Linked DNA regions of Homo sapiens. The protein of the gene in region 2 purifies or fractionates together with the protein of the main gene of each other region. This does not show direct contact. Each region holds a gene or a part of one and is shown on either strand. Other genes may lie near its edges.

Region 1 (4,402 bases), on a different chromosome or scaffold from region 2:
AGACAGAGGGCCAGAGACAGAAGGCGGGACACAAAGGCCTGGAGACAGAGGGCCAGAGACAGAGGGCCAGAGACAGAAGCCCGGAGACAGGGGGCCGGAGATGGGGCCGGAGACAGAGGCCCAGAGACAGGGGGCCGGAGACAGAGGCCCGGAGACAGAGGCCCGGAGACAGGGGGCCGGAGACAGGGGGCCGGAGACAGAGGCCCGGAGACAGAGGCCCGGAGACAGGGGGCCGGAGACAGAGGCCCGGAGACAGGGGCCCGGAGACAGAGGTCCGGAGACAGGGGGCTGGAGACAGGGGCCCGGAGACAGGGGCCCGGAGACAGAGGGCCGGAGACAGAGGCCCGGAGACAGGGGCCCGGAGACAGGGGGCCGGAGACAGAGGCCCGGAGACAGGGGCCCGGAGACAGGGGGCCGGAGACAGAGGCCTGGAGACAGGGGCCCGGAGACAGGGGGCCGGAGATGGGGCCGGAGACAGAGGCCCGGAGACAGGGGGCCGGAGATGGGGCCGGAGAGAGACGCCCGGAGACAGAGGCCCAGAGACAGGGGGCCGGAGATGCGGCCGAAGACAGAGGCCCGGAGACAGAGCCCGGAGACAGAGGCCCGGAGACAGGGGCCCGGAGACAGGGGGCCGGAGATGGGGCCGGAGACAGGGGGCCGGAGCCTGAGTCTTGGCCTCAGGTACCTGGATGGGGTGCAGCCCACCCCAGCACAGGCAGCTAGGTTCCCTGGCATGGTCCCCACCCCATGACCAGAGTTCTAGGGCCTCCAAATGGTACCACCAACCTGTGAGAAGCCACCAACCTCACTCAGCACCGACTCACAGTTAATGAGAATGTCGATTCTGCCAAACTCCTTCAGAGCCTGGTCCACGGCGGCCATGACAGCTGGGGGCGCTCGGACGTCCATAGAGAGAGGGAGGCAGCGCCGGCCGGTGGCCCCAGCCAGCTTCCTGGCGGCCTAGAAGCCAGGTAAAGAGGCAGACAGCAGCCCTGCAGCCTCGGCCTGGAGAAAAGGCCTTTGGAATCTGCAGAGGACGATGCTTCCGGGTTCCTCGGGGACCCTGGGTTTGCTGCTGGACCCCACTCTGGGGAAGCACAGCCTGCAAGTGCCCACGACCCCAGTGGATGTTTGTGGGAACCTGCCACGCTCTCCCCCCACCTGCCACCTGTCCTAGAATCCTCCCTCTGCGTCGCCCTCCAGGCCACTGTCACCCATGTCCTGCCCCTGCTGCAGACCAGAGGTGGCACAGGTGAGACTCTCCTCCCAGGTCGAGGGCTCCAGTAGGTGGGACGCACGGACCACCTAAATAACCCAGGTGAGCCCAGAGGTCTTTCTTGGGGCCACATTACCCCCAAACAGGAAGGTCCCTCCCAGAACCCAATAACTAGATTTTTTAAAAAGTCAAAGATGTCTCTGGGAGGCCACTTACACTGAAGCTCCATATTTAGGATAGGTGCAAGTTTTGGTGCCGGCTGGGCACAGTGGTTCACACCTGTAATCCTGGCACTTTGGGAGGCTGAGGTGCCGGCCGGGCACAGTGATTCACACCTGTAATCCTGGCACTTTGGGAGGCTGAGGTGCCGGCCGGGCACAGTGGTTCACACCTGTAATCCTGGCACTTTGGGAGGCTGAGGTGGGCGGATCACCTGAGGTCAGGAATTCGAGACCAGCCTGGTCAACGTGGTGAAAACCCATCTCTACCAAAAAAATGCAAAAATTAGCCAGGCGTGGTGGCGGGCACCTGTAGTCCCAGCTACTCCGGAGGCTGAGGCAGGAGAATCGCTTGATCCTGGGAGGTGGAGGCTGCAGTGAGCCGAGATCGCACCACCACACTTCAGCCTGGGTGACAGAGCGAGACTCCCGTCTCAGAAAAAAAAAGTTTTGGTGCCAACATCCCCATAGCCTCTGGACTCTCCTGGCCCAGGCCCAGCCCCAGCCCCCCCACAGCCACCCGAACAGGGGACCATGGGAGAGGCCCTCTCACCGTCAGCACTCGCGGCAGGCTCCTACTGGCAATCACCGTATGGCAGCCGTGCCTGCAAAACCAGAAGCAGGTGTGAGGGCAGTGTGGGCGAGGGGCACTCCCGGGGCATCTGCCCAGCTCCTGAGCAGGAGTCTCTCAGGCGGAAGTACCAGTCCAGGCTGAAGGCCCAGCTGGCAGAGGGCACAGGGGCGTGAACAGGACTGAGGTACTCTGGAGGGACCTCAGGTGGTGCCCACCCCGGGGTTTCTGGCATGGGACATCCCACCGCACAGGCCTGCGGGTCCTGCCCCAAACACCAGGTACAGAGACAGCTGTGAGCCACAGACGCCCAGCCCACACATCTGCCTGGGGCCTGCTGGGCCCACATTCTCCACCCCCTTCTCCCTGTGGGGCTGGCGTGGAGGACTGTTCTGAAGCGGGGTGCTCCCTGCTCCCCTTCCTGACCACGTGGATGCGAATCCACCACGTTGGCCTCTATGAACCCTGGTTCCAGGAATGCCGCTAGGATTTCCAGCTTATCTACTGTTCTTGCGAAAGAGCACAAAGAAGTCCTGCCTTTAGGTCAAAACCACCTTGATGTTATCCTAAACAAATTCCTACACACTCCCTCTGAAGCAGGACCCCTTTCCCTGTGGTATAGAAGCCCTGGGCCTGGGGGTAACAGCATGGAGACGCCCGTCTCACAGCCACCCAAGACTACGCTTCTGCCCACAAATTCCCTGGTAAAATCACCTGACACAGACAAACGGGATCTGTCTGCCTTGTTCTTTGGTTTCTCGGCTCTTCTGGTTCGGGGGTTGCTTGCCCACAATAACCATAAAGGTAGCTACCCCTGCTAGGCAGGTCCCACTGGAGCTGCAATGTCCCATCTGGTCCTCAGATGCCCTGAGCACAAAGCCACCAGTGGAAAGGCCATATCTCTTCCTGTGGGACTCACCTTTTTGGTCTGAAAAGCAGGGGCCTCAGGGGAACTGAGGAAGGGTCCCTTTCCCCCACCCCAGCCTAACTCTAGCCACTGTCAGGTGGGATAAGTTGCTGACCCTGGCCTGAAGCCACAGAATTGTGTCCCAGGAGAAAATGTGCTCTGCAGGGCGCCAGCACTGGGGCCCGACACAGCCCTGACTCTCGAGGTCCCAGCAGGCCCCAGACCAGAGCCACACAATCTCCACTGACCTGTAGGGGCCTTGAAGTCCTGACTCCCCCCAGGGCAATCCTCGACCGCTCCCCAGTCCCTCTGGCAGGCACCTGGATCCTGTCGGGTAGGTGAGCAGGGGACATCTACCTCCCACCAACATCTTTCCAGGGGTCGGGCATCCAGCAGGGCCCGGGCAGGGAGAAGCGAGGAGCAGGGAAGGGACACAGAGCAGTCTCACCGCATGAAAATCTCAGCAATCCGGAACCCAATCCCAGAGCCGCCTCCTGTGATGAAGGCCACTTTGTCCCTGAGAATAAAAAAGGAGGCTCTTTTAAAAGAGCCCTATTGGGCCGGGCCGGTGGCTCCCAGCACTTTGGAAGGCCAAGGTGGGTGGGCCACAAGGTCAGGAGATCGAGACCAGCTTGGACAATATGGTAAAACCTCGTCTCTACTAAAAATACAAAAATCAGCTGGGCGTGGTGGTGGGTGCCTGTAGTCCTAGCTACTTGGGAGGCTGAGGCAGGAGAATAGCTTGAACCCGGGAGGCAGATGTTGCAGTGAGCCGAGATCGCACCACTGCACTCCAGCCTGGGCAAAAGAGCAAGACTCCGTCTCAAAAAATATGTATAAATAAAATAAAATAAAAATAAATAAAAAATAAAAGAGCCCTGTTAAAATACACCTCCCATATTGCTATACGGCAATGATTTAAAATGAAAATTCGGCCAGGTGCCTTGGCTCACACCTCTAATCACAGCACTTTAGGAGGCCAAGGCGGGCGGATCACCTGAGGTCGGGAGTTCGAGACCAGCCTGACCAACATGGAGAAACCCCGTCTCTACTAAAAATATAAAAAATTAGCCGGGTGTGGTGGTGCATGCCTGTAATCCCAGCTACTTGGGAGGCTGAGGCAGGAGAATCACTTGAACCCAGGAGGCGGAGGTTGTGGTGAGCCAAAATTGCGCCATTGCACTCCAGCCTGGGCAACAAGAGCGAAACATGGTCTTAAAAAATAAATAAATAAATAAAATGAAAATTCATAAAATTATAGTATTTTATTTAATTTATTTATTTATTTTTTATTTTTTTTGAGATGGAGTCTCGCTCTGTCGCCCAGGCTGGAGTGCAGTGGCATGATCTAGGCTCACTGCAAACTCCTCCTCCCAGGTTCACACCATTCTCCTGCCTCAGCCTCCAGAGTAGCTGGGACTACAGGCACCTGCCACCACGCCCAGCTAATTTTTTGTATTTTTAGTAGAGATGAGGTTTCACCGTGTTAG
Region 2 (5,304 bases):
ATCTGCTGGTCATAGTGGGCAATAGCCTTTTGCACTGCGGCTGAGTTCTCTATCTGGGCCAAGGCCAGGACTGCGTTCTCCATGCAGGGCAGATCCCCTCTGCTGATAGCATTGATATAGGTCAGCACTAGGCTCTCTAGACCTACATACAAAGAAGAAATGATAATGTTTCTTGTACTAAAGAAAACTCTCTATTCTGTGTAATTCTGAACATGTCAATTTCCACCTATTTTCCTCACAGCATCAAGGTCCTCAGAATCATCTGGAAGCTTGCTGGAAATGCCTATTGTTAGCCTCTGTCCCAGATCTACTGAATTAGAGTTTTTTCTTTGGGTAAGATCCCTAGATGATATGTATGCATATCAACATTTGAGAATCCTTGTTCTAGATGACCTAGTCCTGTGTTAGTTGAATGTTTGCATCCATTTCAACCCCAAGCACCATCAGGAAAGGAACCCATAGCTATTCCATATATGACTGTATCCTCAGCTTATTCACAGTAGCATTTGATCAATACTTATGGAACAAATGATACTCTCCTAATCAAAAGGAGCCCTCCGTTTGGTTTATTTTAGCACAGCATTGTCCAAGAAAACTTTCTGTAATGGTGGAAGTGTTCTGTATGTGCTGTTCAGTATGCTAGCCACTAAGTACATGTAAATATAAGCCTTTGAAATATAGCCATGTGAATTGACCTTTAATTTTTCCTTATTTTAATTAATTTACATTTACATTTAGATAGCCCCACTTGTCTAGTGGCTACTGTACTGTACAGTGCAGGCCCAGTTTACTGTGGCAATTTTAAGTAATAAAACTTTTTTCCTTTGCTTTTCCTATCTTTTCCCACCAAGAAGGTTGACCAACAAAATCTATTAGAAATGTTGGTGTCATCTAGAATTTAGCACAAATGTAGCAGTAGATTGGGATTTTTCAATGCTGATACTAGGTGGAGTTATTCTATGCTCCTTTCATATTTTTTTTTTCCTCTGTCACCCAGGCTGGAGTGCAGTGGCGTGATCTCGTCTCACTGCAACCTCTGCCTCCCAGGTTCAAGCAATTCTCCTGCCTCAGCCTCCCAAGTAGCTGGGATTACAGGTATGTGCCACCATGCCTCATTTATTTTTGTATTTTTAGTAGAGACATGGTTTTGCCATGTGGGCTAGGTTGGTCTCAAACTCCTGGCCTCAAGTGATCTGCCCTCCTCGGCCTCCCAAAGTGCTGGGATTACAGGCATGAACCATCATGCCTGGCCATCCTTTAGTTTTAACAATGAGTGGAAGTACTACGAAGGGGACTTACGAGGCCCATTGACCTTGATGCCTCCTGAAAGAGTTTTAGTTTTGGAATTGCTAAAGATGTAGGAACAGAAGTCTGCTACTTGTTGCACAAATTCAGGGTCCAGCTCTTCATCTTGTAGTTTCTCAAGCTGGGCAAGCTTCCTGCGGTGAATGGGCAGATCGAAGACAAAACATTTTTTCTTTGGGAAGAACTTCCGGATACAGAGTCGGGGCAGATTAAAATTTTTATCTTTTTGACTGGTACCTAGAGAAACATAATAAAGAAATTTGCCTAATATAAGTGTTTCCGTAAAGCGTCAAATAGTAAATATTTTAGGCTCTGCAGGCTAGGTGGTCTCTTTTCCAAGTACTCAACTTTGTTATTGGAGCATGACAACAGCTTTAGACAATATGTAAATGAATGGGCATAGCATTCTTCCCAAAAAACCTCACTTAGAAAGACAGCTGGCAGGCAGAATTGGCCATCATTTGTCTTAGGCTGCAGTTCGCCAGCATTTGGACTAGTACACTGTTCATGTTCAATCTATGTTCTTTAAGTAAATATCCATTGTCCTTCATATTTTACAGGTAAATACAGAATCACGAACCCTACATAAGGAGATAAAATTTACCTAAATTGTAAAATAGGAAAAAATGAAAGAAAAAGAAACTTATTTTAGAACACAGGAGAATATAATTTAAAATCTAATCTATTAATTTAGATATTCAGCAAGCATTCATTCCTTTTTTCCTTTTTTCAAAAAACCTTTTCTATTGCTAATAGCAAGCATTAATTCTTAAGAATAGCAAGCTAGAGATATAGAAAACTGTAAATGTGAGAAAACTATCAATAGTAAACTAAAAAATGATAATTTCTAGTGTTTTGTCGTCCTCATTTATCAATGGTACGTCTCTGTTACCTTGCGTTAGCTTCAGGGAATACTCCAGGTACTCATCTGGTGTGAGGGGTTGTCCATCTGCTTCCAAGTCCAGGGAGAAATCTCTCAGTGTCCACACAAAATCTGGGAAGAAGCTCACAAAGTCAGCTGAATCCTCATTCTCATTCTCATCAGGTGAGGATTTTGATCGGATTCGATGTGTCAGCTCTGTCACATAGCTGAGTAGCTAACTAAGGAAATGTGACAAAATGAACAGGAACCTCATCCCATATTAGTTCAACACATTCCCAAACCTTCCATTTTCCTTTGATCCTAACCTAAGTGTCAATTCTAAAGTGGATACATGGGATCTCTCCTCTGTACTTGCATTATTTTTTGTTTTCTCCTTTTGAGCTTGATTCATCAGGATTCACAGTCAGGCAGCTGGTTTATGAATACAGGTGTCCCCTCTGACCTTGGTGCTGTTCTGGGTCACAAAAGGATACTACAGTTGGTCCATAGCCTGCTGGTTGATGGTTCCCATGCTATTGTACACGAGAGTGCTGCTCAGGAGGACGGCCAGGGTGAAGATCCAGGAGTCATTCTGGTTGTCACCCTGGAAGTCAAGACACACTGGAGTCAGGAGCAAGTTTCATCATCACAGCACTTTCCAGAGTGACAGTAGTAAAAGTATATCATAAGTTAGAGTTTTCTTTTAAGACTAATGACCTATGAAAAGAACCCAAATCCAAACAAAATGATTGTTACTCAGCTGTGGAATGTGTATAGTTTTTTGATTAGTGTTTTTTGGTATACACTGATTCTCACCAGGTCCTCTTATGATCATTGGCAGACAATTGCAAAATAAACATTCAAGGTTAATGGGCATTCTAAGGCCTGAAGTATAATTTAAACTTGCTCAGGCTACTGAATTATAAGTTCTTTGCAGGATAGGACTCGTGACATTGGATTTATTTGTGCTCCCTTTATGCATCTGTGTTAACTCACATAGCTTACAACCTATGGTTAGTAGAATACTGTGTGTTGACCACCATGCTTTGCTAGGATTCTGTCTTATGAATATTTTTCTCACTTCTGGTTGCTAAGTTTGGCCTTATGACATGTACACAGAAATGAAAAGACAAATTATAGTTAAATGCAAACTCTTCTTTAAGAAAAAACTAAATGGTGCTTAAAATATTCAGAGATGAGGGGCTTATTTCAAAATTGAATCTTTGACCCTTACCTTCTTTACATCTCCCAGGCCCTCAGTGTCAAGCAGGACTAAGGTGTGTTCTGGCTTTTTGGGGTGAGGCACACACCACATCCAGATTCCTTTGGTGTGAGATTTCACTGTGGAGCCCAGAGAGAAGCCTGTAAAGGAGAGATGGGATAAGAAGGGCTGGAGGTTTAATAGCAGGTACTTCAGGAAATTGAGGCAAATGTAGCATCATGATTAATGTTAAGAGAGATAACCAAAACCACAATCAGTACTTACGTTACTTATAATCAGAAAAATAGAAAAATTTGAATATCCAGTACATAAATGGATTCAGGACCTTTCATGATAAAAACAATCAACAAATTAGAAATAGAAAAAAACTGAGGAAGGAGAATCACTTGAACCCAGGAGGCGGAGGTTGCAGTGAGCTGAGATAGCACCACTGCACTCCAGCCTGGGCAACAGAGCGAGACTCTTGTCTTAAAAAAAAAAAAAAAAAAAAAAGAGGGATAGAGAAACAGAAAAAAATTACCTCAACAAAACAAAGGACATACATGAAAAATCCACAGCCTGCTTCATACTCAATGGTGAAGACTGAAAATTTTCCTCTAATATGGGAACAAGGAAAAGATGCCCACTTTTGCCACTTCTTTTCCACAAAGTACTAGAGGTCCTATCCAGAGTAATTAGGTGAGAAAAGGAAACAGAAAGCATCTAAATTGGAAAGGAAGATGTAAAATAATCTCTATTTACTGATGATATGATCTCTGCAGAAAACTTTAAATATTACACAGAACTGTTAGAACTAATAAAAAGAATTCAGCAAAGTTGCAGCATACAAAATTAACATGCAGAAATCTGTTGCATTTGTATACAGTAGCAAAGAACAATCCACAAAGGAAATTTTGAAAGCAATCCCATTTAACATACCACCAAAAGGGCAAACTACTTCAGAATAAAATTGGCCAGGCACAGTGGCTCACGCCTGTAATCCCAGCACTTTGGGAGGCTGAGGCAGGTGATCACAAGGTCAGCAGATCGAGACCATCTGGCCAATGTGGTGAAACCCTGTCTCTACTAAAACTACACACACACACACACACAAAATTAGCTGGGTGTGGTGGCGGGCACCTGTAATCCCAGCTACTCGGGTGGCTGAGGCATGAGAATTGCCTGAACCCAGGAGGTGGAGGTTGCAGTGAGCCGAGATTGTGCCACTGCACTCCAGGCTGGTGACACAGCAAGACTGTCACAAAACAAACAAACAAAAAACCCAAAAAACGTAACCATAGAGGGGAATGACTTGTATAATGAAAATTACAAAATTTTTTTTTTTTGGAGACAGAGTCTCACGGTGTCATCCAGGCTAGACTGTGATCACTGATCACTGTAGTCTTGACCTCCCAGGCTCAAGCAATACTCCCACCTCAGCCTCCCGAGTAGCTGAGACTACAGGCACGTGACACCAGGCCTGTCTAATTTTTGTATATTTTGTAGAGATGGGGTTTCCCCGTGTTGTCCAAGTTGGTCTCAAATTCTTGAGCTCAAGTGATCTGCTGGCCTCAGCTTCTCAAAGTGCTGGGATTACAGGTGTGAACCACTGTGCTTGGCCAAACATTCTTAAAAGAAATTAAGGAAGAGTTAAATAATTAGAAAGACATCCTGTAAAAGTGACATACAGATTCAATGCAATCCCTATCAAAATTCCAATGATTTTTTTATAAATAAAAACATCAAAAATATCCACACTAACTTTCATATGAAATTTCAAGAGATCCCCAAATTGTCAAAATAATCTCAAAAAGGAAGAAGAAAGTCAGAGGCTCACAGTTTCTGAGTTCTGAAACTTACTACAAAATCAGGATAATCAACACAGTTTGGTATTGGCTTAAACACTGTTATCAACTAATGGAGTAAAGTAGAGAGC

Evidence for each region. The genes of interacting proteins can lie anywhere in the genome.
Region 1: the proteins of GBP3 (region 2) and DECR2 purify together in Homo sapiens (affinity purification with mass spectrometry; one large-scale study listed by BioGRID and IntAct). This does not show direct contact.

The regions. Positions count from the first base shown.
Region 1 is NC_000016.10:403,983-408,384, reverse strand, and holds part of DECR2 (peroxisomal 2,4-dienoyl-CoA reductase [(3E)-enoyl-CoA-producing]), read right to left. Parts: intron 3,430-4,402; coding exon 3,361-3,429; intron 2,040-3,360; coding exon 1,988-2,039; intron 961-1,987; coding exon 825-960; intron 1-824.
Region 2 is NC_000001.11:89,011,886-89,017,189, forward strand, and holds part of GBP3 (guanylate-binding protein 3), read right to left. Parts: intron 3,530-5,304; coding exon 3,402-3,529; intron 2,772-3,401; coding exon 2,662-2,771; exon of another isoform or gene 2,546-2,661; coding exon of another isoform or gene 2,520-2,545; intron 2,395-2,519; coding exon 2,198-2,394; intron 1,543-2,197; coding exon 1,300-1,542; intron 143-1,299; coding exon 1-142.